Linked DNA regions of Homo sapiens. The protein of the gene in region 4 purifies or fractionates together with the protein of the main gene of each other region. This does not show direct contact. Each region holds a gene or a part of one and is shown on either strand. Other genes may lie near its edges. The genes, in order: G3BP2, DDX6, LSM12 and ATXN2L.

Region 1 (7,032 bases), on a different chromosome or scaffold from region 4:
AGCTTTCATTCAATGGTGTACCACAAAAGATTGAAGGTCATTTCTTTAAAAAGGTATAGTGTTCCTTAGATTGTTTAAGTTACTTCAAACAAAAACCATCTGGAATTTCAGAAAGTTCCAGTATTAATATGCATTTAGCTGTTGGAAATGGATATAGTCCATGGTTCAATTAAAATAAATAAACCTGACTAGTTTGAGCCCAGCTATGAGTGAGGGACTCCAGAGGGGAAAGGGGTAAGTATCCTATAGTGGAGATAAGCTGTGTCTTAGCACCCACATAACCTTTGGTAACAGTATCTGGTAAAGAGAACTGCCTCCTATTACTAGAGGTCTTATTCTTTTTATAATAACTAATACCAAGTACTTACAACTCAGCTCACTGCAACCTCCGCCCCCGGGTTCAAGCGATTCTCCTGCTTCAGCCTCCTGAGTAGCTGGGATTACAGGCGCCCGCCACTGCACACGGCTAACTTTTTTGTGTTTTTAGTAGAGATGGGTTTTGCCATGTTGGTCAGGCTGGTCTCGAACTCCTGACCTCAGGTGATCCACCCATCTCGGCCTCCCGAAGTGCTAGAATTACAGGCGTGAGCCACTGCACCCGGCCTCTTTTTCCTTTTGTAGTTTCTGGTACATACATAGTAGCCATAAAATAAATGTTGAAATGAATTTATTTTGTATAACCCATTGACTCAGCTTGTGGATGGGAATGAATGAAGTAAGACAAAGGCGCAGAGAGTGAAATTGCAGAGAATAATATTAGGTGATTAAAATATTTGTATAGAATTTGATACAGGGATGAGAAAGTATAGTAGGAGATAAATTTGAAAGGTTGGTTATGACATTGAATGTCAGACTGGATTTCTGTGTAGGGCCTTAGATGCCAAACTGAATGCAGGTGTTTGGATTTTACTCAGTACAGTATATACTACACGTGATACAGGGGCTTGAAAGACTTTTGAAGAATAAAAGGTCTGAACAGTGGGAGTGAAAAGGAGGGCACAAATTCCACCTTCTGAATTGTAAGGATTTCACAGTTTAAGTGGCAAAGCTAAAGGGGAGAAAGTCACGACTGAGCTTTCAAGTTGAGAAGATTATGACACTTTTAACAGAAATAAGGAAATAGCTTTCTTTGGTGCATGCGTGTATTGGGACATATGTGGGTCATGTCTAGGTGTTCAGTATGTGGTGACAAATGTAAAATTTGAACTTATGGTATAGACTAGATACACGTTTAGGTAGACATGAGACCAGAAGCTGAAATTGCCAGGTTAGAAGACAGAACCTTGAGAAATTCTGCGTTTGGATGAGAAGGAAAATTTGCCTTATAGAACTCTAGAAGAGTTAGGAGGAGGTAGTCAACATTGATAATGCAGATGGGTGGAGGATTGAGAAGTCATTCGATTATTGAGAAGAATTGTGATGTTTCCAGAGAATTGCATTCAAAGGAGAGCTGAGTTATAATATTTGAGAGGGGAATAGAAGATGAAGACAGGTGTACAGTTAGTAATTTAGGGCAGAGCATGATCAATAAACTGCTATGATAAAGGCCAAAAGTGCTTTAAGAGTTAATAGAGAAGAGTTATATTCTGTTGAGGAATTCAGTAGGAGTAGAAAGATTTTCAAGGGGACAGGATTTCTGCTGGGCCCAGATAAATGCATAGGGTTTCAATCATTGCAGATAGGAAGGTGTGAGATGAGTATTGGAGGAGAAGTCAAAAGTCCTGCTTCTTGTTAACAGACTTTTAGGATCTTAGTGTTGGAATGGCCTAATCTTACTTTTTTGGATGTATGGACTCTACTATGTTTGTGCCAAACCATTCAGTTAGTCTCTGGAATACCTGTAGTGACTGGCTACTTGTTAAGTAGCTCTATTTGATATTTGGACAACTCGCGTTATTCTTGTGTTATGTTTCACCCAAATCTACCTTCTTATAATTTCCATTCACTATATTCAATTAGCAATCAACTCATTTTAGATATTACATCTAAATTAATGTAGCCTAAGATTGATTGTTTTGGAGGCAGCCCCATTATAGTAGTGATTCACTGAACTTTAAATGGTAAACAAAAAACCTAAATGTTTCTTACCTAAAAGGTGACGTTTTAGTCAAAGTTTGAGGAAAGGAGAGTGATAACTTTGGTTTTTACGTTATTTTGAAACTGAGGAAATATAAGTTCATTGTAGGATAATGAAGCTCAATGTGACTTTCTTTTCTAATCTGCATGTATGTCTACCAATGCTCCACTCCCTCTCAGTGTGTATTATCTACCAATACTCCACTCTCTCTCAATGTGTATAATTAATAGATTCAGAAAATATGGTGACAAATATAGAGCAATTTTCCGTGAGAGCTGAAGTGCATGTGCTTCAGGAATTAGGCAAATGCAGAGGAAACATTTTAAGAAACAGGAATGAATAAAATATTCTGATGAAGATTCACTGGGATTTTAGGTGCGATAGGCAGAGTTGGAGAGTAAAAAGCCTCTAAACTATACTGGATAATGTTTTCGGTTTTTTGTTTTTTGAGACAGAGTTTCGCTCTTGTTGCCCAGGCTGAAGTGCAAGGGTGTGATCTCAGCTTACTGCAACCTTTGCCTCTGAGTTCAAGCAATTCTGCTGCCTTAGCCTCCTGAGTAGCTGGGACTATAGGCGCGTACCACCAGGCCTGGCTAATTTTTTGTATTTTTAGTAGAGACGGGCTTTCACTGTGTTAGCCAGGATGGTCTCGATCTCCTGACCTTGTGATCCTCCTGCCATTGCCTCCCAAAGTGCTGGGAAGTAGGCATGAGCCACTGCGCCTGGCCTTGGATAATGTTTTCATTTGACAAGTAAAAGACGGATTTGTTCATGAGAGAGCTTTGACTGTGTATAGAGCTAATGTATCAGATAAAATTTTACACTGTGCATTCCTGTGTGAGATTCTTCACATTTTCAGGTGTCATTGGAAGAAGTGGAGTGTGATATATTGTATTTAACTTTTTCTAAAAAGGTTGTTAGGTGAGGCTAACAACCACCTTATTGAAGATGGTAGTTATCTTTGAAGGTGCTAATCTAAGAACTTTCTAAAGATTTCTTTTTGTGTATAAGTATCCTTTAATCTTGGCTATCTTTTTTTTTTTTTTTTTAAACAGTGTCTCACTCCTGTTACCCAGGTTTGAGTGCGGTGGTGCCATCTTGGCTCGCTGCAGCCTTGACTTCCCGGGCTCAGGCATTCCTCCCACCTCAGCTTCCCGAGTAGCTGGAGCTACGCTTGCACACTACCACGCCCCGCTAATTTTTTGTATTTTTTAGTAGAGACGGGGTTTTGCCATGTTGCCTGGGCTGGTCTCAAACACCTGAGCTCAAGCGATTCACCCACTTTGGCCTCCCAAAATATTGGGATTACAGGTGTGAGCCACTGCACCAGGCCTTCTTGGCTATCTTTGTAGAACTGTATAGTCTTGTAGGCTTGACCGGGGATTTCTTCTCAATTTGTAAACTAGGAAATCGAGATCCAGTAAGGTCATGAGTTTTTCATGGCCATGGATAAGATAGTTGAAACCTTTTACTCCCATATTCAGAATTTTGTTTCGTTTTGTTAACTTTTTTTAAGAAATGGAAGGTCCCAGATCTAGAAATGGATTACCTGTAAGATGATTTGCTATGAATAATAAAAATGGCACAATTCTTTCTTCTTGTAATCACTTTTATTCTGAAAGTGTAATTTGGCTTTTTTCCTTTTTCTCAACCTTCTTACGTACACTGCATGAATTATAAATACGAACTTTATATTACTTACTCAATTTTCATAGTCTTATTTCCTGCAATACCCAAACCACGTTGTTTGATGGTTGATCTCTAGTAGTCATTTTCTGGTTGATTTCTATCAATTATATTTTGGCTCTCTAAATTCTGAGTCACTTCAAATCGGAGTTATGGTTAAAGAAGTAACTGATGTAATTAGTTGAAACACTGTTCTCTCAGTAAATCTTGATTTTGTTTTACCATTCCTTTGGGAGCCTCCTCTGCACCTTAAAAGCTCAGCTTTCTATATAACCTGTTATATGCCTGTTTAGATTTTACCAGATTAGCATTGCCTTACTTATTTACCATTTGAAGTTAACTTTTCAAGTTACTGCCTTCCAATAGTTCTAAGTATTAATTTATTGAGTATTGATTAATCAAATATTACTTCTACTGCCCTTCCCTGTCTCTCTGTTCTAAATTGATGGTATGTTGGCCATTATACTTCAGTGACCATGTAGATAGTGGGCAATTTGAAGCTTTTTTTGAACCTTGTTACAACAAATCTTTAGAGCATTTTGACCTGTGATATTATATATGTATTATGTACCATTTTATTTTGGTTTGAGAAACAAATATGTAAGTGACAAAAATGATAGATCAGTATGTACTCTATGAATATGATGGGAAATTTGGGATAAATGACAACAGTGTTCCTGTAGAAAATCTGGAAATCCAGAGAGAAGAAAACAATTCCCAAACCCGGAAATTCCTAATAGTATTTCTGTCACTATCAATTTAAAGAAAACTATTTTGTGTATAGTTATTTTGTTCAGAGAGTAATGTAGTATTTTCCCATGTGTTAGTATTATTTTACCATCAGTTTTTATGGTGTTAAAATACATATAATTTCCATGTTTTAGTTATCTTGTTAAATTTTACCAGGTAAGTCTACTGTTCTTTACCCACCCTCATTATTCAAAATAAAAATGTTAGTTGCTTAGCTGTGTGTGTGTGTGTGTGTGTGTGTGTGTTTGTTTGTGTGTTTGTGTGTGTGTGTGTGTTTGTGTGTTTGTGACTACAGGTGTGCACCACCATGTCTGGCTAATTTTAGATGGGGTTTTGCCTTGTTGCCCAGGCTGGTCTTCAGCTCCTAAGCTCAAGCAGTCTGCCCACTTCGACGTCCCAAAGTGCTGGGATTACAGGCGTGAGCCACAGCCCAGTGCTTTGTTACTTTAAATGTAGCATATGTGAGTCCTTTTTGCACTAGGGTTGTTACCCTTATTGGGAGTTTTAAGTTTTCTGGAAAATCAATGACACCTGAAATGGCAGTATTTGGATCTGCTCTTTGTGAATTAACTATTTTTGAAAGCAAGTGAGGCATTATAAAAAATTTTAAACAGATTTGGGGATTTTTGTAAATCAAGTTTGAGAGTTTAAGAAGGACAGTTAGAGGAGGGATAGTTTGTTGGAAAGGAAGAAACAAGGAACCTAAAAACATAATGTAGAAGTTGAATTGTGAGTCACTAGAATTATGTAAAGCTACACTCTATCTGTAAGCTCTACTATAGTTGGTATTTGATTTTTATTAAAAACAGCATCACAATTTTAATGACCTATGCAGGGCTGTCTCTGAAATTGTTTTAGTTATTTAAAGTAAACACACATGGAAATTGACTTTTTATTTTTAATTTTTTGTATAGAGATGGGGTCTCTCTGTTGGCCAGGCTGGTCTTGAACTCCTGGCCTCAAGCTTTCCTGCCACCTCCACCTCCCAAAGTGCTGGGATTACAGGCATGATCCACTGTGCCAGCCTGCAGTGTTTTTTTGTCTGTTTGTTTTGAGACAGAGTCTTACTCAGTTGCCCAGGCTGGAGTGCAGTGGTGTGATCGCGGCTCACTGCAACCTTTGTCCCCCAGGTTAAAGTGATTTTTTGTGCCTCAGTCTCCTGAGTAGCTGAGATTACAGGTGTGTGCCATCAGCTCTGCTAATTATTTGTATTTTTAGTAGAGATGGGGTTTCACCATCTTGGTCAGGCTGGTCTCGAACTCCTGATCTCAAATGATCCTCCCAGCTCAACCTGAAGTTTAAGCAGGACTTTATTTATTTATTGAGATGGAGCCTCACTCTGTTGTTGCCCAGGCTGCAGTGCAGAGGCATGATCTTGGCCCACTACAAACTCTGCCTCCTGGGATCAAGCGATTCTCCTGCCTCAGCTTCCCAAGTAGCTGGGACTACAGGCGCCAGCCACCACGCCTGGCAAATTTTTGTATTTTACTAGAGAAGGGGTTTTACCATTTTGGCCAGGCTGGTCTCGAACTCCTGACCTCAGGCGATCTGCCCACCTTGGCCTCCTGAAGTGCTGGGATTACAGGCGTCAGCCACCGCACCTGGCTAAGCAGGAATTTCAACTGCATCCTGATTTACCCAGTAGATACATGCTTAGGAATTATGATTTTTTTTTTTTAGTACTTTTAAGTTTAATAGGTCTTTTTAAAATAAAACAGGTGGCTGGGCACGGTGGCTCACGCCTGTAATCCCAGCACTTTGGGAGGCTGAGGCAGGTGGATCACGAGGTCAGGAGTTCAAGACCAGTCTGGCTAACATGGTGAAACCCCGTCTCTACTAATAATACAAAAATTAGCCAGGTGTGGTGACACGTGCCTGTAGTCCCAGCTACTCGGGAGGCTGAGGCAAGAGAATTGCTCTGCCGGGAGGCAGAGGTTGCAGTGAGCCAAGATCGTACCACTGGACTCCAGCCTGGGCAACAGAGCAAGACTCCATCTCAAAAATAAAATAGGTTATATTTCATATTTTTATTTTTTATTTTTTTGAGACGAGTCTCGCTCTGTCGCCCAGGCTGGAGTGCACTGGCGCGATCTTGGTTCACTGCAACCTCCGCCTCCCGGGTTCAAGCAATTCTCTGCCTCAGCCTCCGGAGTGGCTGGGATTACAGGCACCCACCACCACACCTGGCTAATTTTTTTATTTTTAGTAGAGATGGGGTTTCACCATCTTGGCCAGGCTGGTCTTGAACTCCTGCCCTTGTGATCCACCCGCCTTGCCTCCCAAAGTGCTGGGATTACAGGTGTGAGCCACCGTACCTGGCCCTGGGGATTATATTCCTACAGTAAATGATAAGTTTTGTTTGTGGCTCACACCTGAAGTGAGAGGATCACTTGAGGCCAGGAGTTCGAGACCAGTCAGGGCATTGTAGCCAGACCTCGTCTCTGCTAAAAATAAAAATTAAAAAATTTAAAAAAATTAGCCAGGTGCATGCTTATAGTCCCAGCCACTCAGGAGATTTA
Region 2 (7,032 bases), on a different chromosome or scaffold from region 4:
GGGTGTGGTGGCTCACGCCTGTAATCCCAGCACTTCGGGAGGCCGAGGCAAGGCAGATCACCTGAGGTCAGGAGTTCAAGACCAGCCTCGCTAACATGGTAAAACCCTGTCTCTACTAAAAATACAAAAATTAGCTGGGTGTGGTGACATGTGCCTGTAGTCCCAGCTACTCAAGGAGGCTGAGGCAGGAGAATTGCTTGAACCTGGGAGGTGGAGGTTGCAGTCAGCCAAGATCATGTCACTGCACTCCAGCCTGGGTAACAGAGCGAGATCTGTCTCAAAACGAAGAAGCAGCAGCAGCAGAAGGCCAGGTGCAGTGACTCACACCTGTAATCCCAGCACTTTGGGAGGCCAAGGCAGGAGGATTGCTTGAGGTCAGGGGTTTGAGACCAGCTGGGCCAACATGATGAATCCCCGTCTCTACTAAAAATACAAAAAATTAGCTGGGTGTGGTGGCGGTTACTCAGTAGGCTGAGGCAGGAGAATTGCTTGAACCTGGGAGGCAGAGGTTGCAGTGGGCCGAGATGGCAGCCACTGCACTTCAGCCTGGACAACAGAGCAAGACTCCATCTCAAAAAAAAGAAGAGGAAGAGTTTAATATTTATATAATAGTATTGCTGAGGGAGAGTCTAAATCTGGGACACTATAATAGGTTCTCTTTTCATAAAGAGATTTGTACATTTGAGTTTTCATAATGTCCTGTGTAATGATTCAACTTTTTATTTTTATTTCTTAATTTTTTTGGCGGGGGAGACAGAGTCTTGCTGTGTCACCCATTCTGGAGTGTGGTGTCATGATCATAGCTTAATGCAGTCTTAATCTCCCAGGCTGATGTGATCCTCCTGCCTCAGCCTCCCCAGAAGCTGAGACTATAGGCACATGCCACCATTCCCAGCTAATTTTTTTCATTTTTTTTTTTAGTAGAGATGGGGTCTTGCTATGTTGCCCAGGCTGGTCTTAAACTCCTGAGCTCAAACGATCCTCCTGCCTCAGCCTCCAAAAGTGCTGGGATTCTAGGCATGAGTTACTCACTGTGCTGCCCAGCCCAATTTTTTAATACATCTCGGTATCTAGATTATAAGGGGCAGTGTTTCTTTTCTTTTTTTTTATTTGAGACGGAGTTTCGCTCTTGTTGCCTGGACTGGAGTGCAGTGGCACAATCTCGGCTCACCACAATCTCTGCCTCTCGGGTTCAAGCGATTCTTCTGCCTCAGCCTCCCAAGTAGCTGGGATTACAGGCATGTGCCACCCACGCCCAGCTAATTTTGTATTTTTAGTAGAGATAGGGTCAGGCTGGTCTCAAACTCCCGGCCTCAGGTGATCCACCCACCTTGGCCTCCCAAAGTGCTGGGCTTATAGGTAGGTGTGAGCCACCGTGCCTAGGCTATTTTTTTTTTCTTTCTTTCTTTTGAGACTGAGTCTCACTCTGTCGCCCAGGCTGGAGTGCAGTGGCGCGATCTTGCCTCACTGCAGCCTCTGCCTCCGGGTTCAAGTGATTCTCCTGCCTCAGCCTCCTGAGTAGGTGGGACTACAGGTGCGTGCCACCACGCCTGGATAATTTTTGTATTTTTAGTACAGATGGGGTTTCACCATGTTGGTCAGGCTGCTCTCGAACTCCTGACCTCAGGTGATCTGCCCACCTTGGCCTCCCAGAGTGCTGGGATTACAGGCGTGAGCCACTGCATCATAAGGTGCAGTTACAGGTGTGAGCCACTGCATCATAAGGCGCAGTATTTCTATAGCTTCTTAAATTTTGTAAATAATGATGTATAGCATGTTCTCCCACCTCACCCCATATTTTCTTATATATTCCTTGATACTGTTTCAGCAATGGTGATTGTTCCCACTAGAGAACTTGCTCTACAGGTCAGTCAAATTTGCATCCAGGTCAGCAAACACATGGGAGGGGCCAAAGTGATGGCAACCACAGGAGGAACCAATTTACGAGATGACATAATGAGGCTTGATGATACAGGTAAGAAATGATTACTAAAAGGTAGTGTAGCTCTCTGTTATTTTAGTCACAAGTATTTCAGTAAATTATTAAAAATTGTTTTTAAGAATTAAGGAACAGAAATACTGCAGTAAGAAAAGGAAATGACCACTGCATTCAAGCGAAAAAGACAAATTACCATAATTGAAAACGATATTTGACTTTATTAGTAATTGTAAAACAGCAAGTTTATAATAATTTTACCTGTTTAATTGGTAAAGCTAAAAGTATTAGTAGACGATAATGTGAGTTTGTGGACAAATAGGCTACATTGTAAATGTGGGGGTGTAAACTTACATCTCTATCATGGGCAATTTGGGAGTATATTTTAAAATTATAAATGTATATATAATGTGTGTGTGTGTGTGTATATTTTTTTTTTTTTTGGAGATGGAGTCTTGCTCTGTTGCCCAGGCTGGAGTGCAGAGGCGCAATCTTGACTCACTGCAATCTCCGCCTCCCAGGTTCAGGCCATTCTCCTGTCTCAGTCTCCTGAATAGCTGGGATTACAGGCTCCCGCTACCACGCCAGGCTAAATTTTTGTGTTTTTAGTAGAGACGGGGTTTCACCGTATTAGCCAGGATGGTCTCGATCTCCTGACCTCGTGATCCACCTGCCTCAGCCTCCCAAAGTGCTGGGATTACAGGCGTGAGCCACCGTGCCCGGCCATAAATGTATATTTTTAAGAATCTTTCCTGAAGAAAAAAGTTGGGTAAATGCAGGGCTGTAGGTACAAAGTTGTTTGCTATGGGGTGGTATTGTCGTGCCGAAAAATTGGCCAACTTAGAAGGAGATTGGCTAACTAAATACGTTAAGGTATAATCTGAATAGGATTCTACATAGTCATTAAAGAGTAAAGTTGACCTGTATTCATTTTCATGAAGAGGTTTCATGATACATTGCCGAGTGGAAAAAGGTAACAAAACAGCAAGAATGAGATCACTCATATAAAATTATATCTTGATTTTAGTTAGAATATTATATATGATAATTATGTGATACATTCTTTGTATTGCATAGGTTTTTAAAAAATTATCTTGTTTGATCCTTTTAACAATACTCGGCTCACTGCTCTAGATTAGAGGCATTGCTCTTATGTCAGAAGTCTGGTGTGCCTTCTGCTATTAATTGAGAATTATCCTAAGACAAGAAAGTATGCCTACTGTTGAAAGCAGCAGGTGATTTAGGAAGCTGTACCCCACCCAATGTAGAGGTGAAACAAATATTTTTTAAGCATCCTGTGGTGAAATGGAAGTCTTTATCCTAAAACACATCTTTGTGCCTTTTTGTGTTATTTCCACCTCTATAACACAATGTGTTTCTTCTCTTTCTTTCTTTTTTTTTTTTTTTTTAATTTGAGACACAGTCTTACTCTGTTGCTCTGGCTAGAGTGCAGTGGTGTGATCTCGGCTCACTGCAACGTCTGCCTCCTGGGTTCAAGCGATTCTCCTACCTCAGCCTCCTGAGTAGCTGGGATTACAGGCTCCCACCACCACACCCAGCTAATTTTTGTATTTTTAGTAGAGACAGGGTTTCACCGTGTTGGCCAGGCTGGTCTCGAACTCCTGACCTCATGTGATCCACCCACCTCGGCCTCCCAAAGTACTGGGATTACAGGGATGAGCTACTGCACCCGGCCTAGTTGTTTCTAATAAAAGATAGTCATGTGCTGCATACAATGTTGTGGTCAGTGACGGCTGCACGTATGTCGGTGTTCCCATAAGATTATAATGGAGCTATACAATGGAGTAGGCTATACCATCACATAGCAATGCATTTCTCAGAATTATCATTAAGCAGCTCAGGACTGTAATATTATAAACCTTTATCCTCTTTGCTCAAATTAAAATTAATGAGAATGTATGTTTTCTAAATCTTGCATAGTGCACGTGGTGATTGCTACCCCTGGGAGAATCCTGGATCTTATTAAGAAAGGAGTAGCAAAGGTTGATCATGTCCAGATGATAGTATTGGATGAGGTAATGTCTCTTCATTTGGCATTATACTGTTCTGTACTTTTCTGTGCTTTGCTTATAACTGCCAGTGAATGAAGCAAAAGCTGCTTGTGTTTATGATCTAATAAACACATAAACAATCAGTTTAAATTAATTTGCTTATAAAATGTGTTTTACCCGTCAGAGGGAGTAGATTATAGGCATTCATTGGAATTCAGCATTTTGTCTTTTTCTTAGAGATAGCAGACATTAGGTTTTAATTTTTTAGTAGAGGAGTGAATAACCTCAATGCCAAATTTATTCTAAGTCTCTTTCTGCTCTGTGATTAATTTTTAAAAGCATATAATATATATTGTCTCTTCTCATTTTGTGCATACTACTTTGTACTGTTTGGTTTTTAATCTCTGTTACATGTATTATCTCACCATGTTATAAATGCCTTTTAAAAACTTATTAAAATCTGTAGTCCTGGGATCTAGCCATGTTTTGTACATGTACAGATGGTCCCTGACTTAAGATGGTTCACTTTACAGTTTTTCAGTGGAAGTGATAAGCTTTCATTAGAAACTGTACTTTGAATTTTTAAGATTGATATTTTTCCTGGTTAGTAATATGCTATATGATACTCCCATGATGCTGGGCATCAGCAGCAAACTGCAGCTCCCAGTCAGCCACATGATGATTGAGGGCAGACAGCCGATACTCTACAGTATACGGCGTTGCAGGTGATTTTGCCCAACTGTAAGCTAAGGTAAGTGGAGCATGTTTAAAGGAGGCTAGGCTGAGCGATGATGTTCAGTAGGTTTGGGTAATATTTTCAACTTAGGATGAATTTATCAGAACATAATCCCATTGTAAGTCAAGGAGGATCTATAGTGATCAGCGTTGTTAATGTTTTGACATGAGGTTATTTTCACATTTGGGTTGAGGTTTATTATTATTATTATTATTTTTTTTTTTTTGAGACAGACTCACTCTGTCACCCAGACTGGAGTGCAGTGGCGTGATCTCGGCTCACTACAACCTCTGCCTCCCCGCTTCAAGTGATTCTTATGCCTCAGCCTTCTGAGTAGCTGAGATTACAATTATGTACCACCCACGCTCAGCTAATTCTTGTATTTTTAGTAGAGGCGCGGTTTTGCAATGTTGGCCAGGCTAGTCTCGAACTCCTGACCTCAGGTGATCCTACTGCCTCAGCCTCCCAAATTGCTGGGATTACAGGCATGAGCCACCACGCCCGGCCTGGTTTGTGTTTTAGGTAACATGATTTAATTCAAATCAGACTTTTATCTTTAAGTAATGAGAGAGAACATTTATTAATCACTGGGTACCAGCACTAAGTGCTTTACATGGTTTGTTTTTTTTTTTTTTTTTCCATTTAATTTTTACAAGAAACCTATAAGGTAGGTATCCTGTCAAGTAGTTACTATAGTATGTAGACATCCAACTTCTAATTTGCTTATAAAATACGTTTTATACTTCAGATGCAATAGATAGGCATTCATAGGAATTCAGCTTTTTGTCTTATAGATGCCAGAGTTTAGGTTTAATTTTTAAGAAGAGGAGTGGCTGGATAACTTGAAAGTCAAGTTTTTTCTTTTTTGTTTTGTTTTGTTTTGTTTTTGAGACAGAGTCTCGTTGCCCCGCTTGGAGTGCAGTGGTGCGATCTCAGCTCACCGCAACCTCCACCTCCCAAGTTCAAGCGATTCTCCTGCCTCAGCCCTCCCGAGTAGCTGGGATTACAGGCATGTGCCACCATGCCGGGCTAATTTTGTACTTTTAGCAGAGACAGGGTTTCTCCATGTTGGTCAGGCTGGTCTCAAACTCCCGACCTCAAGTGATCTGCCCACCTAAGCCTCCCAGAGTGCTGGGATTACAGGCGTGAGCCACCACACCTGGCCTTAGCCAAGTTTTTTCTAAATCCCGGTAAAGTAGTTACTACATTATGTAAACATCCAAATTTTAATAGTTTTACAATTTTAGAGTTGTGGAAACTGAAGTACAGAGTAGTTCTGTAACATTCCCACACAGCTGAGAAATGAAGGAGGCAAGATTTCAACCTGGCAGTTTAGCTCCAGAACCTGTACTTTTTTTTGAGACAGAGTCTTGCTCTGTTGCCCAGGCTGGAGTGCAGTGGTGCGATCTCAGCTCAACTGCAACCTCCATCTCCCAGGTTCAAGCAGTTCTTCTGCCTCAGCCTCCTGAGTAGTTGGAATTACAGGCGCTTGCCACTGTGCACAGCTAATTTTTGTATTTTTAGTAGAGACAGGGTTTCACCATATCAACCAGTCTTGTCTTGAACTCCTGACCTCAGGTGATCCGCCCGCCTGGTCCTCCCAAAGTGCTGGGATTACAGGCGTGAGCCACTGCACCCGGCCTCAGAACCCTTACTTTTTTTTTTTTTTTTTTTTTGAGACGGAGTAGTCTCGCCCTGTCGCCTAGGCTGGAGTGCAGTGGTGTGATCTTGGCTCACTGCAGCGTCCGCCTCCCAAGTTCAAGCGATTCTCCTGCCCCAGCCTCCCGAGTACCTGGGATTATAGGTGCGTACCACCACGTCCAGCTAATTTTTGTATTTTTAGTAGAGATGGGGTTTCACCATGTTGGTCAGGCTGGTCTCAAACTCTTGACCTCGTGATTCTCCCGCCTCGGCCTCCCAAAGTGCTGGGATTACAGGCGTGAGCCACCGCGCCCGGCCAGAACCCGTACTTTTAAACACTACACCATACTACCTCTTTAATGAGAATCATCACATTAAAATTCTGTTGTGGAGCTGGGCATGGAGGTATGTGCCTGTAGTCCTAGCTACTCAGTAGGCTCAGGCAAGAGGATCACTTGAGCCCAGGAAGTTCAGGCTGCAGTGAGATACGATTATGCCACTGCACTCCAGCTGGGTGACAGAGTGAAATGCTGTCTCTAAAAATAAATAAATTAATTAAATTCTGTTACAGAAAGCGGGGGAGGTTGTCTGTGTAGTGTAGAATTTTTTTTTTCCCCTAGAAGATGGGGATTATAGATTTTGCCCCCTTCTGCATATTTGACTCTCTGCAGTGTTGGAGAGAATTTATTGTTTTCCACCAGGAACAT
Region 3 (6,926 bases), on a different chromosome or scaffold from region 4:
ATGCGAAGGCGGATATATAATCTCCAGGGCCGGGATTCTTTCCCCACCGGACCTCTCTTCTCCAGCACCAATACCCACCAAAAAAAAAAAAAAAAAAACAAACAGCAAAAAAATAAATAAATCTGAGATCCTTTGGAGAAAAGGCTGCAGACAGCCCCTCCTCCTGGGAGCTGAAGCGGGATCCTAAATTTGCATACACCCCTAATCAGTTCACTCCTTCCTCCCCAGCCTCAAGACTCCCCCTTTCTAATTCGCCTGCTATTAATCTGGAGGCTGACAGATAAGTCTCTTGATTTTGAGGGGTCTTCCCTAAAAAGGCGAATTCTCACATATAGCGCAAAGTCACACTTCCTTCCAGTTCTTCCCTTGCTTCCCCCACCCCCATCCTCCTGCCATCCAAAACCCTGCTTAGGCAGATGAAACCAAGAGATAGTAACAGTGTTGGTATGGGAAGAGGATTGGCACACACCCGCGACAGAGTTTGAAACAGTCATCTGGGGGAACTCACATAGAAAATAGAAATCTCAGCTATTCTAGGCGAGGTCCTGCCTAGAATACTGTTGAACAGTGTCTCCTTAGTTTCTTCCTACCTCAATCAACTTTGTTCTTGAAAAGTTTTTTTTTTTTTTTTTTTTTTGCCGGGCGCGGCGACTCACACCTGTAATCCCAGCACTTTGGGAGGCCGAGGCGGTCGGATCACAAGGTCAGGAGTTCCAGACCAGCCTGGCCAACATAGTTAAACCCCATCTCTACTAAAAATACAAAAATTAGCTGGGCGTGGGGGCACGCGCCTGTAGTCTCAGCTACTAGGGAGGCTGAAGCAGGAGAATCGCTTGAACCCGGGAGGCGGAGGTTGCGGTGAGCCGAGATGGGACCACTGCACTCCAGCCTGGGCGACAGGGCGAGACTCTATCTCAAAAAATAAAAAAAAATAAAAAATAAAAAAGGTGCTGGGCACAGTGGCTCACCCCTGTAATCCCAGCACTTTGGAAGGCCAGGGTGGGTGGATCACCTGAGGTCAGGAGTTGGAGACTAGTCTGACCAACGTGGAGAAACCAAACCGTGTCTCTACTAAAAACACAAAATTAGCTGGGTGTGGTGGCACATGCCTGTAATCCCAGCTACTCAGGAGGCTGAGAGAGGTGAATCGCTTGAGCCCAGGACGTGGAGGCTGTGGTGAGCCAAGATTGTGCCATTGCATTCCAGCTTGGGCAACAAGACAGAAATTCCGTCTCCAAAAAAAAAAAAAGGTGTAAAGGAGGGAAGCTGGATATAAATCTTCGTTTATTGCCTTTGTAGTGAACAGAATTTTTATTCCTATTACAATGATTATACCAATACCTCCAACACCAGGAAGTTTTTTTTTTTTTGAGACGGAGTCTCGCTCTGTCCCCCAGGATGGAGTGCAGTGGCGCGATCTCAGCTCACTGCAACCTCTGCCTCCTGGGTTCACGCCATTCTCCTGCCTCAGCCTCCCAAGTAGCTGGCACTACAGGCACCCACCACCACACCTGGCTAATTTTTAGTATTTTTAGTAGAGACGGGGTTTCACCATGTTAGCCAGGATGGTCTTGATCTCATGACCTCGTGATCCGCCCGCCTCGGTCTCCCAAAGTGCTGGGATTACAGGCGTGAGCCACTGTGCCCGGACAATACCAGGAAGTTTTTAATTGCCGAAGAGAAAGCCTACATTGTTTACCGAGTCTTTGAGGTTTGCCCTCAACCTTAAGCAGCCTACTCCCACACTCCGCTTTGTAATATTTCTGACCTATACATTCCTTGAAATCACCAAGTTCTCTCCTCTTAGGGGTCCTGGCCCGTGCAGTTCCCTCTGCCTGGAACATGGCCACTCTTTTTCCTTGCCAATCCTTCAGGTCTCAGTAGAGATTTTTCACTTCCTCCAAGAAGGCCTTTCCTAATGGCTCCTAGAAGTCTTATATGAAAACCTATAATCACGATTCCATATAAAAAGTGGAAAACTGGAATGGCAATTATGTATGATTTATTATGGGGGCCAGAACAAGGATGAGAGGCATGAAAGTTCTCTGAGGCCGGCCACATGGCTCACGCCCGTAATCCCAGCACTTTGAGAGGCCAGCCGAGGCGGGAAGATTGCTTGAGCCCAGGAGTTTGAGACCAGCCTGGCCAACATGGTGAAACCCCATCTGTACTAAAAGTACAAAAATTAGCCGGGCATGGTGGCTCGTGCCTGTAATTCCAGCTACTCCGGAAGCTGAGGCAGGAGAATCGCTTGAACCTGGGAGGTGCGGGTTGCAGTGAGCCAAGATGGCGCCACTGCACTCCAGTCTGGGTGACAGAGCGAGGCTCTATCTCAAAAAAAAAAAAAAAAAAGTTCTCTGAAAAAGCACACTATGAAGGAGCAGAATTTTTATTCCTATTATAATGAGTGTATCAATACTTCCAACACCAGGAAGTTTATGTTTCTTGGAGGGCAAGGAAATACTTTTGAACTTTGTTCAGGTTAAGCCGCGCCAAGACTGGCCCTTTGCTTCCCTCTGGACTAGAGAAAGGTCAACCTGTTTCTTATACATGAAGCGAGGATCCAAAATTTCTATAGTGAGCGGTGGGTGGGTTAGCGACAGCCATTGGTGGTAGTAGGGCTTGAAAATGCACGCTCATAGTCCTTTGCATAAGATTAAGAAAACGACTGTTTTGTACATCAGACGGACATTCAAGGGCAGGGGCGCAAAACCCCTCCTCCAAGCCCCTTTTTGTCACTATCCGCTGCTCCTCATTCCTGCCTTTTGCCTGGCTTTCTGGGAGAGAGGGCAAAAAGGGAGAAGGGGAAGTGTCTTGACTTCTAAGAGTGATGGGTGACTAAGGGGGAACTACCATTTATTAAAGACCTAGTACATGCCATGCACTTATACCCGTTACCGCATTTAAACCTCCTAACTATGAGGTAGGTATTATTATGTAACAGAGTATAGCAGTAAATAGCACCGTCCTTGGAAATAGGCAGACTGTTTTTGCTAGTTGTGGAACCGTGGACAAGTTTAGTCTAAAACTTAGTTTATGTAAAAGGAGGACATTGATTCCTACCTCAAAGGGCTGTTAGATGCTCAAGAAGTGACAATACAAATGCCTATGAAGAAACAGGATCAGGTAATTTGCTTGCTCAAGGTCAGGTGATTTAGTAAGAGGCTGACCTCGGATTCTGGTTCCAGCTTATCTAACTCCACAGCCAATGTTCTTTCCACTATCACTCAGTAGTTATAATCATCTTTTTTTGTTTGTTTGTTTGTTTTGAGACAGAGTCTCGCTCTGTTGCCCAGGCTAGAGTGCAGTGGCACAATCTTGGCTCAGTGCAACCTCCGCCTTCCAGGTTCAAGAGATCCTCCAGCCTCAGTCCCCCTAGTAGCTGGGATTACAGGCACGCGCCACCGTACCCGGCTAATTTTTGTATTTTTAGTAGAGACGGGGTTTCACCATGTTGGCCAGGCTGGTCTCGAACCCCTGACCTCAGGTGATCCACCCGCCTCGGCCTCCCAAAGTGCTGGGATTACAGGCGTGAGCCACCGCTCCCAGCCTTATAATCATCTTGTCCAAGTATCGTTAAGTCCTCTGAGGCTCTGATTCCTCATATGCAAAATGGGGTTAACATATTTTATAAAATTCATTCATTAAACTCTTGTGTGGAAGGTGTGCATATAATGGAGACTGCAGCTCCCTCCTCTTTCCCCTTTTCATTCCACGTAGGTCATTTATCCTTAACTTCTAAAATGGACTCTACAAGCACTTAACCGAGCGGACGCAGCTATACAAATACTTTTCAGATTCCCCTTTATTTCCTCTTCTTTCCCACTCCACCTAGGATCCCGCCCCAACCAGCGCCAGGCCACGCCCCGGCGTGTGACGCAAGCACGCTCCGTGCGCGCCGTCGCGTCGCGGCGCTCACTGGGGGCCCGGCTTTCGCCCGCTGCTGCCGCCGCCGCCGCCGGCCGCGGCTGCACTCCCAAGATGGCGGCTCCTCCGGGCGAGTACTTCAGCGTTGGGAGCCAGGTGTCGTGCCGGACGTGCCAGGAGCAGCGGCTGCAGGGCGAGGTGGTAGCCTTTGACTACCAATCCAAAATGCTGGCTTTAAGTATCCTTCCCTGCGTGAAGCCCGAGTCCGGGCCGGCGTGTAGGTGCGGTGGTCGGGGGGTGGGGGACGACGGCGGCGGCTGGGGCTCTCTCCGGGCCTAGGGGCGACCGGCTACCGCGGCGCCCGGGGCGCATGCGCACGGCCCTGAGCTCCCCTCCCCCTCCCGCGGGCCCTTCGGTCAGCTTTGGGGATCCTGTCTCTCTCTCTTTGCGGGAGCTGGGGCTTTACCGAGGATCAGTGGGTGGAGGAGGGCTTGACACGGGGATGGCTTTTTGGGGGGAACGTTATGAGAGGGGACACAGTAATTAGGAGAGGGGGTGGTGGTGGGAGGGGGCTGATGGATTGGAGCCCGGATGGAAAGGAGGGGCGGGTGAAATATTATGGGGAGGGGTGTTTAGGGTAAGGAACTGCTGGTAGGGCAAAGGTATGGAATTTAGGAGGGCATGTGCACTGATGGGATTTCGTCCAAGGAAGGGCGGTGGGATGGTGACCAAATTGGTCCTTGCCTGTTTTGGGGGAGAGTAAGTTCAGGGCAGAGTTTGTATCTGAGCTAGGGATAGTGGCTTGTTTCGCTGATGCGTGTGTATGTGTGGTGGGGGGGCTGTGCTGATTTTTAGGCTTCTCGGTCATTTGGAAGTTGCTGTTTAGGGGATGTTTGCACTGGAAACCTGTTCCAGAGAGGGCTTGCCAGGGGCTTATGTGGTTTGGGGATGTGTGAGTTACAGGTGAAAGAGTGAAGTTCTCATGCTGCCTTGATCAGTCCAGCACATGGAGTCCTTTTACGTAGTAGCAGCCTCCCTTTTGAAAGTAGCAATGTTAAACTGATTGGAAAAGGTGGCCTGCTTCTTTGGGGTGGAAGTGACTTCTGAATTACTCCAGGAAACTCAGTCTTGGAAATGAAACACTTCCTTGTTGGGATAAATGTGCCACGGCTTCCCTTTTTATGTGAGCCACAGGTGGGTTTATTGGAATTTTTTTTTGGAGGAGTAATTTTTTATGGCATCTTTTTTTTTTTTTTTTTTTTAAGATGGAGTCTCGCTCTGTCGCTAGGATGGAGTGCGGTGGCGCAATCTCGGCTCACTGCAACCTCCGACTCCCTGGTTCGAGCGATTCTCCTGCCTCAGCCTCCGGAGTAGCTGGGATTACGGGCACGCGCCACCACGCCCAGCTAATTTTTGTATATGTTTTTTTTTAACAGAGATGGGGTATCACCATGTTGGCCAGGATGGTCTCGAACTTCTGACCTCGTGATCCGCTGGCTTCAGCCTCCCAAAGTGCTGGGATTACAGGCCTGAGCCACCGCCCGGCTTTTTTTTTTGTTGTGTTTTTTGAGACGGAGTTTCACTCTTATTGCCCAGGCTGGAGTGCAATGGCGTGATTTCGGCTTACTGCAACTTCCGTCTCCCGGATTCAAGCGATTCTTCTGCCTCAGCCTCCCGAGTAGCTGGGATTGCAGGCATACGCCACCGTGCCCGGCTAATTTTTTGTATTTTTAGTAGAGACGGGGTTTCACCGTGTTAGCCAAGATGGTCTCGATCTCCTGACCTCGTGATCCACCCGCCTCGGCCTCCCAGAGTGCTGGGATTACCAGCGTGAGCCACCGCGCGGCCTAAGAATAGTTGCTTTTTTAAAAAAATAAGAGGTTACACCTGGAAGAAATAAGACCTTTTACATTAGTGGTTTAGTTGGAAGGGTCTTGTAACTAGGAATTACTTTTTTTTTTTTTTTTTTGAGACGGAGTCTCGCTCTGTCACCTAGGCTGGAGTGCAGTGGCACCATCTCGGCTCACTGCAACCTCCGCCTCCCGTGTTCAAGTGATTCTCCTGCCTCAGGCTCCAGAGTAGCTGGGATTACAGGCATGTGCCACCACACCCGGCTAATTTTTTTTTTTTTGGTAGTGACGGGGTTTTGCCACTTTGGCCAGGCTGGTCTTGAACTCCTGACCTCAAGTAATCTGCCCGCCTCAGCCTCCCAAAGTGTTGAGATTACAGGCGTGAGCCATCACGTGAGCCTGGCTGAATTACTCAACTTTTACTTGACATACAGTAGGCTCTTAAATGGTTGGAGAATGAGTTTGTGAATGAATGAATGGATTAACTGGCTGGGTCACCTTGGGTGAATTTCCTTTCCAGTGTGTAGTTTTCTCCTCTGCAAAATGGGAAAGCTCACATCTGAAAGAGTAAAAAGAATACTGTGCAGACACAGAGAGTATTATACGAAGAACAGAAAGGTCTAGCTCTTTTGTCTGGCTCATAGGTTCAAGACAAACGCATTAAATCTGCATTATGCCTCTCCATAAAGCCAGTAGAGAGAAAGTGACAGAACTCCTTTGGAAGCTTCCAAGGATTTGGGCAGGAGGAAGGTGACAGGCAGAGATTTCCTGAGGAGAACCGTGATTCTTATAAGGCCCTCATGCTCCTGGCCTGCCTTTTACAAGCCTTGTGTGAATCGTGTTTTCTATGCCCCTTTTGGGATGTGTCAGTGCCTCTGCTTGTCCTATTTTTCCTTAACTTTTTTTTTTCTCACCAGAATGTCCCTCTTCCAGTGGAAAGCCCAACCATGCAGACATCTTGCTCATAAACTTACAGTATGTTTCAGAAGTGGAAATAATTAATGACCGAACAGAAACCCCTCCTCCCCTAGCTTCACTCAATGTTAGTAAGGTAAGGACTCAAGGGCAGATCTGGCTCTCTAAAATGGTGGGAAAGATGAGTCTCATTGAGTCTTAGTGATACATTGTTGTCTATTTTTTATTTTTTAAAATTGACTTAAAATTGTTTGTTCTGATATCTTTTTAAAAAATGTAGGTTTAGTTTTTCTC
Region 4 (4,766 bases):
TCCCGATCTGGCTCCCCATCATCCTAGATTTCAAAAACTGGCCACCATTGGTGTGCAATGGAGTGATCTCAGCTCACTGCAACCTCCGCTTCCTGGGTTTAAGTGATTCTCCTGCCTCAGCCTCCCAGGTAGCTGGGATTACAGGCATGTCCCACCACGCCAGGCTAATTTTTGTATTTTTAGTAGAGACAGGGTTTCACCCGAGTTCAAGTGATTCTCCTGCCTCAGCCTCCCAAGTAGCTGGAATTACAGGCATGTCCCACCACATCTGGCTAATTTTTGTATTTTTAGTACAGATGGGGTTTCACCAAGTTGGCCAGGATGGTCTCCATCTCTTGACCTGGTGATCTGCCCACCTCAGCCTCCCAAAGTGCTGGGATTACAGGCGTGAGCCACCATGGCTGGCCACTGGACACGATTTTTACATGGAGGTGAAGGAACAGGTCACAATGCAGCACCTATCAATGCCACAAAAGACTGACAGCTGTCACCCCACTCTAGTCTCCAAGGAGGAAACTCCAGGCAGGTTAAGTTAGTTTAAAATTTTATTTTTTTTATTTATTTTTTAATATTTTTATGTAATAAAAAGTAAAAGTCCTTGTCCAGCCATCCTCGTGGGGCATCTGTCTGTCTCTCACACAGGTCACTCAAGTTAATGGGAAAGAAAGAACAGGGGGCCCAAGTCTGAAGTTATAAATAATAGAAAATAAAAGATCTTCCGTCTCCAGCGGGGGAATAGATGAGAGGATGGGAGGGCAAGACTGGGTGGGGACGGGCAGGGGCAGAGCAGGAACCCCCCACCCCTGCTGGACCCTGGCCCTGCCCTCTGTGAGGCCCCTCCCATTCAAGGTGCTTGGCAGGAATTCCCCAGCTCCCCTGGGGAACGGGGGGATGGGGGGCTGGGAGTGGTCCGAGCTGCTGGGGGAAGAGACATAGATCACTCTTCCCTCCACTCATGGAGGTCTCAGGTCGCGGCCAGGACAATCTTCAGTTCCCCGGGGGGTGGAAGGGGAGCTGCTGGGAGGGATGAGATTGAACTGGTTGGAGGGGAAAGAGAAGAGAGCAGGAGCATTAGAACCCAAGCAGCTGTCCCTTCCTCCAATGCCGTCCAGTGGGGGCGTGGGGGTGTGTCTGGGAAGGAGCGGCCTCCTCAAGGTGTCTCGGGGGCTGTCAGAAGCACAGGTCAATCGCTGTTTCCCAGTAAGCCAGAGCCCTCACTCATGTGCCCAGCTCAGCCCCCCACACCCCAGTCTGGCCCTGTCTGCTGCACTGACCTTACCTCGGCTAAGTCAGGAGACAGTCGGGGTCACTGAGAGCTGGGGAGGCAGTGGGGAGGGGGGCTGCTGGATCACAACTGAGCGAGGACGGAGGGAAGCAAAGGACAGAGCCAGGAGCAAGCCCCTGGCGGCGGCGACTGTGGCTTCTGCCCACCCTACATACTTCACAGACAGGTGCAGGTCGGCGGGCGCCCTGTGGGACAGCCCTGCCTCCAAGACCCCTCACTCCCCACCCAGAACCCGTGCATCCTGCCCCACCTGCAGCCCCTCAGCTCTTCCATGCCAAATTCCCCCAGCTAATGAGAACTCACGAATCCTGTCATCGGCTCCTCCTGGAAATCCAGGCGCCTGGCCAGGCTGCTCACCTTGGGGGTGTCCGATGTAGGGGTAGGGTGAGGGTGTGGAAGCTGAGAGTGCAGGCACCCCACTCTGGGGCACCGCGCCTTGGGGGGGCCCCCCATGACTCTGGGGTGGGTGCAGCAGCATCACCTGGGGCGGGTGGGGAGCCCCAGGGTGAGGGGGCGGGGCTGCTGTGATTCCAGTTTGGACATGGGCCTGTGGAAAACAAAAAAGTAGCCGGGAAGACCACAGAATCCTGAAACAGACTCTGAGAGCCAGAGTTAGGGAGCACTATGGCAAGGGTGGCACCAGGGACTTGGCAATGGGATGGTCCCCATGGCAGACGGGCCCTGGCAAACAGACCCAGAAGTGGGACAGCTGGGCTCTTACCTGGGTAACATGGGCCATGTTGGTGAAGCCGTGGGGCAGCTGCTGGTGGTGGATGGCATACACAGCGGCTGGCTGGGGGAAGCTGCTCTGAGGGGACTGGGCAGAAGGTCCCGGTGGCAGAGAGGGCGGCGTGCCTGTCAGGGCCCCTGGGTGGTACAGATTCTGCTGTGGCTGTCCACTGCCCAAGTGTGGGGCCTGCCCCGCCTGATGCTGCTGGGGAGGGGAAGGTTGAGTGCCACACAGGCCAGCAACTCGCTGGCCCCCAGTCCTCGCCACTCAGAAATGACCCCTAGCTCTATCCCTTCTTCTGGCCACCCATTCCTGCACCAGGACCACTCAGCACCCCCCATGGCAGGCACCTGGACAGGACTGGGGGCCGCATGCTGGGACTGCGGCTGGCTTCCAGTAGGCGTGGTAGCCGGCTGCGGCTGGTGGGCATGGAGCTGTGTGGCATGGTGTGGGTAGGACTGGTGAACAGTGGCTGCAGCAGGAAAGAGGGAGAACCAGTGCTGAGCACACCAGAGGGGGCTGGCACACAGCCCAGAGCAGAGGGACCAGGCGCAGGACTCACCATAAAGGGCTTGGGGGGTAGGCTGCTCTGCAGAAGGGTACTGAGGGGTAGAGGATGACACGATGGCCTGGGGATGGCTGCCCGACGTCAGCATGCGTGGGTTGCTCTGAAGCATGGGGGCAAACACCGGCTGGCGGGACAGAGAGAGGAGTGGTTGGCACAGCCGCCAGCTGGGAAGGTGTCCTCCTGCCAGTCACTGCGTGCACAGCACCGCTTGGGCCTCCTCACAATCACCCTATTGATTCAACATTCATAACGATCCCACCCAGCAGACACTATTTTCTCTACACTTCAGAGATACAGATGTCCAATGCCTTGTTACAGGTACCACCAGAGCCAGGGCTCAAGCCCAAGTCTGACACCGCCAATACCACAGAGGGCCGATCCCACCTACAACACTGCCTGCCACCCCTAGCCAGCTCCCAAGTCTCTGGAGAAGATGGGATCCCTAGCAGGGGCCCTGGATCCTCACTGCCCTCCTGGGCCGCAGTCACCTGTGAGGGGTAGTGGGCCATGGGCTGCATCATGGCTGGCTGGCCTGGGAACTGCTGAGGGTTGTAGGGGATGTAGGAAGAATAGGGCGTGGCAGCCACCAGAGGCGGGCCAGCAGCCGCGGCGGCCTGCATCATCGGCGGGGCTGAGGCTGGCTGGTGTTGGTCCGAGCGCTGCGGAGGAAGGGAGCCTGGAAGAGGAGGAGGAGAGGAGAGCTCAAGCTCCACCTGCCAGTAGGCCCTTGGCAGCCTCGCCGCCTGCCCCTCCCAGCCCTGCTCACCTTTTGCTCCCCGGTACTTGCCCTGCTGCCCAGGCACTGAATTGGATACAGGATATGGATACATCTGAGGTGCCTGGGGATGAGGACACAGATGAGGCTGAATGACTCGCTCACGAATGCCCAGACAGGCCTGACCTGGTCCCTCAACCAGCGCAACCAAATCCCACCCCGCTAACCCTGGGCCCGGCCAGTCTCTCTGCATACCTGCACAGCTGGTCCCATGTGGATCTGAGGTATGTAGGAGATGTACTGGGGGCTGTATAGCCCACTCTGGCCTGCTGTCAGCACCGGGATGGAGGGAGTTGAATGAGTCCGGGGCCCCGGAGAAGTTGGGGTACTGGTGGATTTATTCTGCAAAAACAAGGGAGGACAATTTTATTTTGTATTTTCCCCTCTACTCCTGGCCATGCCTAGAGTGGTAATAATTAACATTCGTGAAATGCTGCATACCAAACATATTCTGCACTTATCTTGATAAAGCCTCACATTAAACCCTATGAGGAGATGAGTATTCTAAAGTTACAGGTGAGGCAGAGAATGTAAGTGACGTCCAAGATCACAAACCTTCCAAATACAGGGGCTCAAGCCAAGTCAGCTGGCCTCTGTTCATGACTACCCCACTCCAATACTCCCTCAGCCAAATGCCAAGAACCAAAGAAAAGCCTGTTAACCCCTCATCAGACTCACTGGGATCCCTGATCCCCTGATCACCCAAACCTAGAGACCTGAGTCCATTTTCCCCAAGCCAGCCCCAAAGGTGCCATCCTTACATTTTTATGACATCTCCTCACACTGCCTGCCAGGCAAGTGGTCCTGGAAGTGAAGTGTTCCTCCCCCTATTCATCTATAAGCACTGCCCAAGTCTCCCCACAGAAACCAAAGTCCACATTCTCCTGTCCCAGCTCACCACAGACAGCAGAGGCTTTGTAGGATTGAACTCCTTAGCATTAGGGTTCAACGTTGATTTCTTTACTTGTCTGTGAGAGAAAGTACAGTAAATCTTCACGGCTTGCTCTCATCCCTCCTGCCATCCTCCCAGAGCCCCACCCCGCTCCACTCACTCAGCAACAGGGCCCTCATCTTTGTCTTCTCCCTTGATGAGGCCCACCGGGGGGCTGCCAGTTTGGCTTGGACAAGGTGGTGGGGGCTGCTCTGGCCCCTCAGTGCCTCCTGATGGTGCCAGGGGTGGTTTGTCCTCCTTATCCGATACGGACTCTGTCTTGGAGGAGACGGGAGACCCCATGGGCTCTGAAGTCAACAGACCATCAACCTCTTTCTCCTTTCCTTTGGGCTCCTCCTTTAAGATCCGGGGAGGAAAAGGATCCAGGCTGTTCTCAGGGGAGCTACTGGGCTGAAGCTGGAAGAGAGAAACACACACAGTCCAGTCTGACCCAGACCCTAGTCCTGGCTTTCTTCT

What was found.
Region 1: the proteins of ATXN2L (region 4) and G3BP2 purify together in Homo sapiens (affinity purification with mass spectrometry; 6 studies listed by BioGRID and IntAct, with this or other methods). This does not show direct contact.
Region 2: the proteins of ATXN2L (region 4) and DDX6 purify together in Homo sapiens (affinity purification with mass spectrometry; 6 studies listed by BioGRID and IntAct, with this or other methods). This does not show direct contact.
Region 3: the proteins of ATXN2L (region 4) and LSM12 purify together in Homo sapiens (affinity purification with mass spectrometry; 4 studies listed by BioGRID and IntAct, with this or other methods). This does not show direct contact.

What each region holds. Positions count from the first base shown.
Region 1 is NC_000004.12:75,663,383-75,670,414, reverse strand, and holds part of G3BP2 (ras GTPase-activating protein-binding protein 2), read left to right. Parts: intron 1-7,032.
Region 2 is NC_000011.10:118,760,152-118,767,183, reverse strand, and holds part of DDX6 (probable ATP-dependent RNA helicase DDX6), read left to right. Parts: intron 1-1,828; coding exon 1,829-1,975; intron 1,976-3,877; coding exon 3,878-3,972; intron 3,973-7,032.
Region 3 is NC_000017.11:44,063,643-44,070,568, reverse strand, and holds the start of LSM12 (protein LSM12), read left to right. Parts: upstream 1-3,897; 5' UTR 3,898-3,981; coding exon 3,982-4,105; intron 4,106-6,634; coding exon 6,635-6,768; intron 6,769-6,926. UniProt on the Homo sapiens protein: Nicotinic acid adenine dinucleotide phosphate (NAADP) binding protein. Confers NAADP sensitivity to the two pore channel complex (TPCs) by acting as TPC accessory protein necessary for NAADP-evoked Ca(2+) release.
Region 4 is NC_000016.10:28,832,999-28,837,764, reverse strand, and holds the end of ATXN2L (ataxin-2-like protein), read right to left. Parts: intron 4,707-4,766; coding exon 4,411-4,706; intron 4,327-4,410; coding exon 4,257-4,326; intron 3,701-4,256; coding exon 3,554-3,700; intron 3,423-3,553; coding exon 3,350-3,422; intron 3,260-3,349; coding exon 3,072-3,259; intron 2,708-3,071; coding exon 2,578-2,707; intron 2,488-2,577; coding exon 2,366-2,487; intron 2,220-2,365; coding exon of another isoform or gene 2,217-2,219; coding exon 2,007-2,216; intron 1,833-2,006; coding exon 1,500-1,832; 3' UTR 1,440-1,499; coding exon of another isoform or gene 1,285-1,439; 3' UTR 1,038-1,284; coding exon of another isoform or gene 965-1,037; 3' UTR 533-964; downstream 1-532. UniProt on the Homo sapiens protein: Involved in the regulation of stress granule and P-body formation.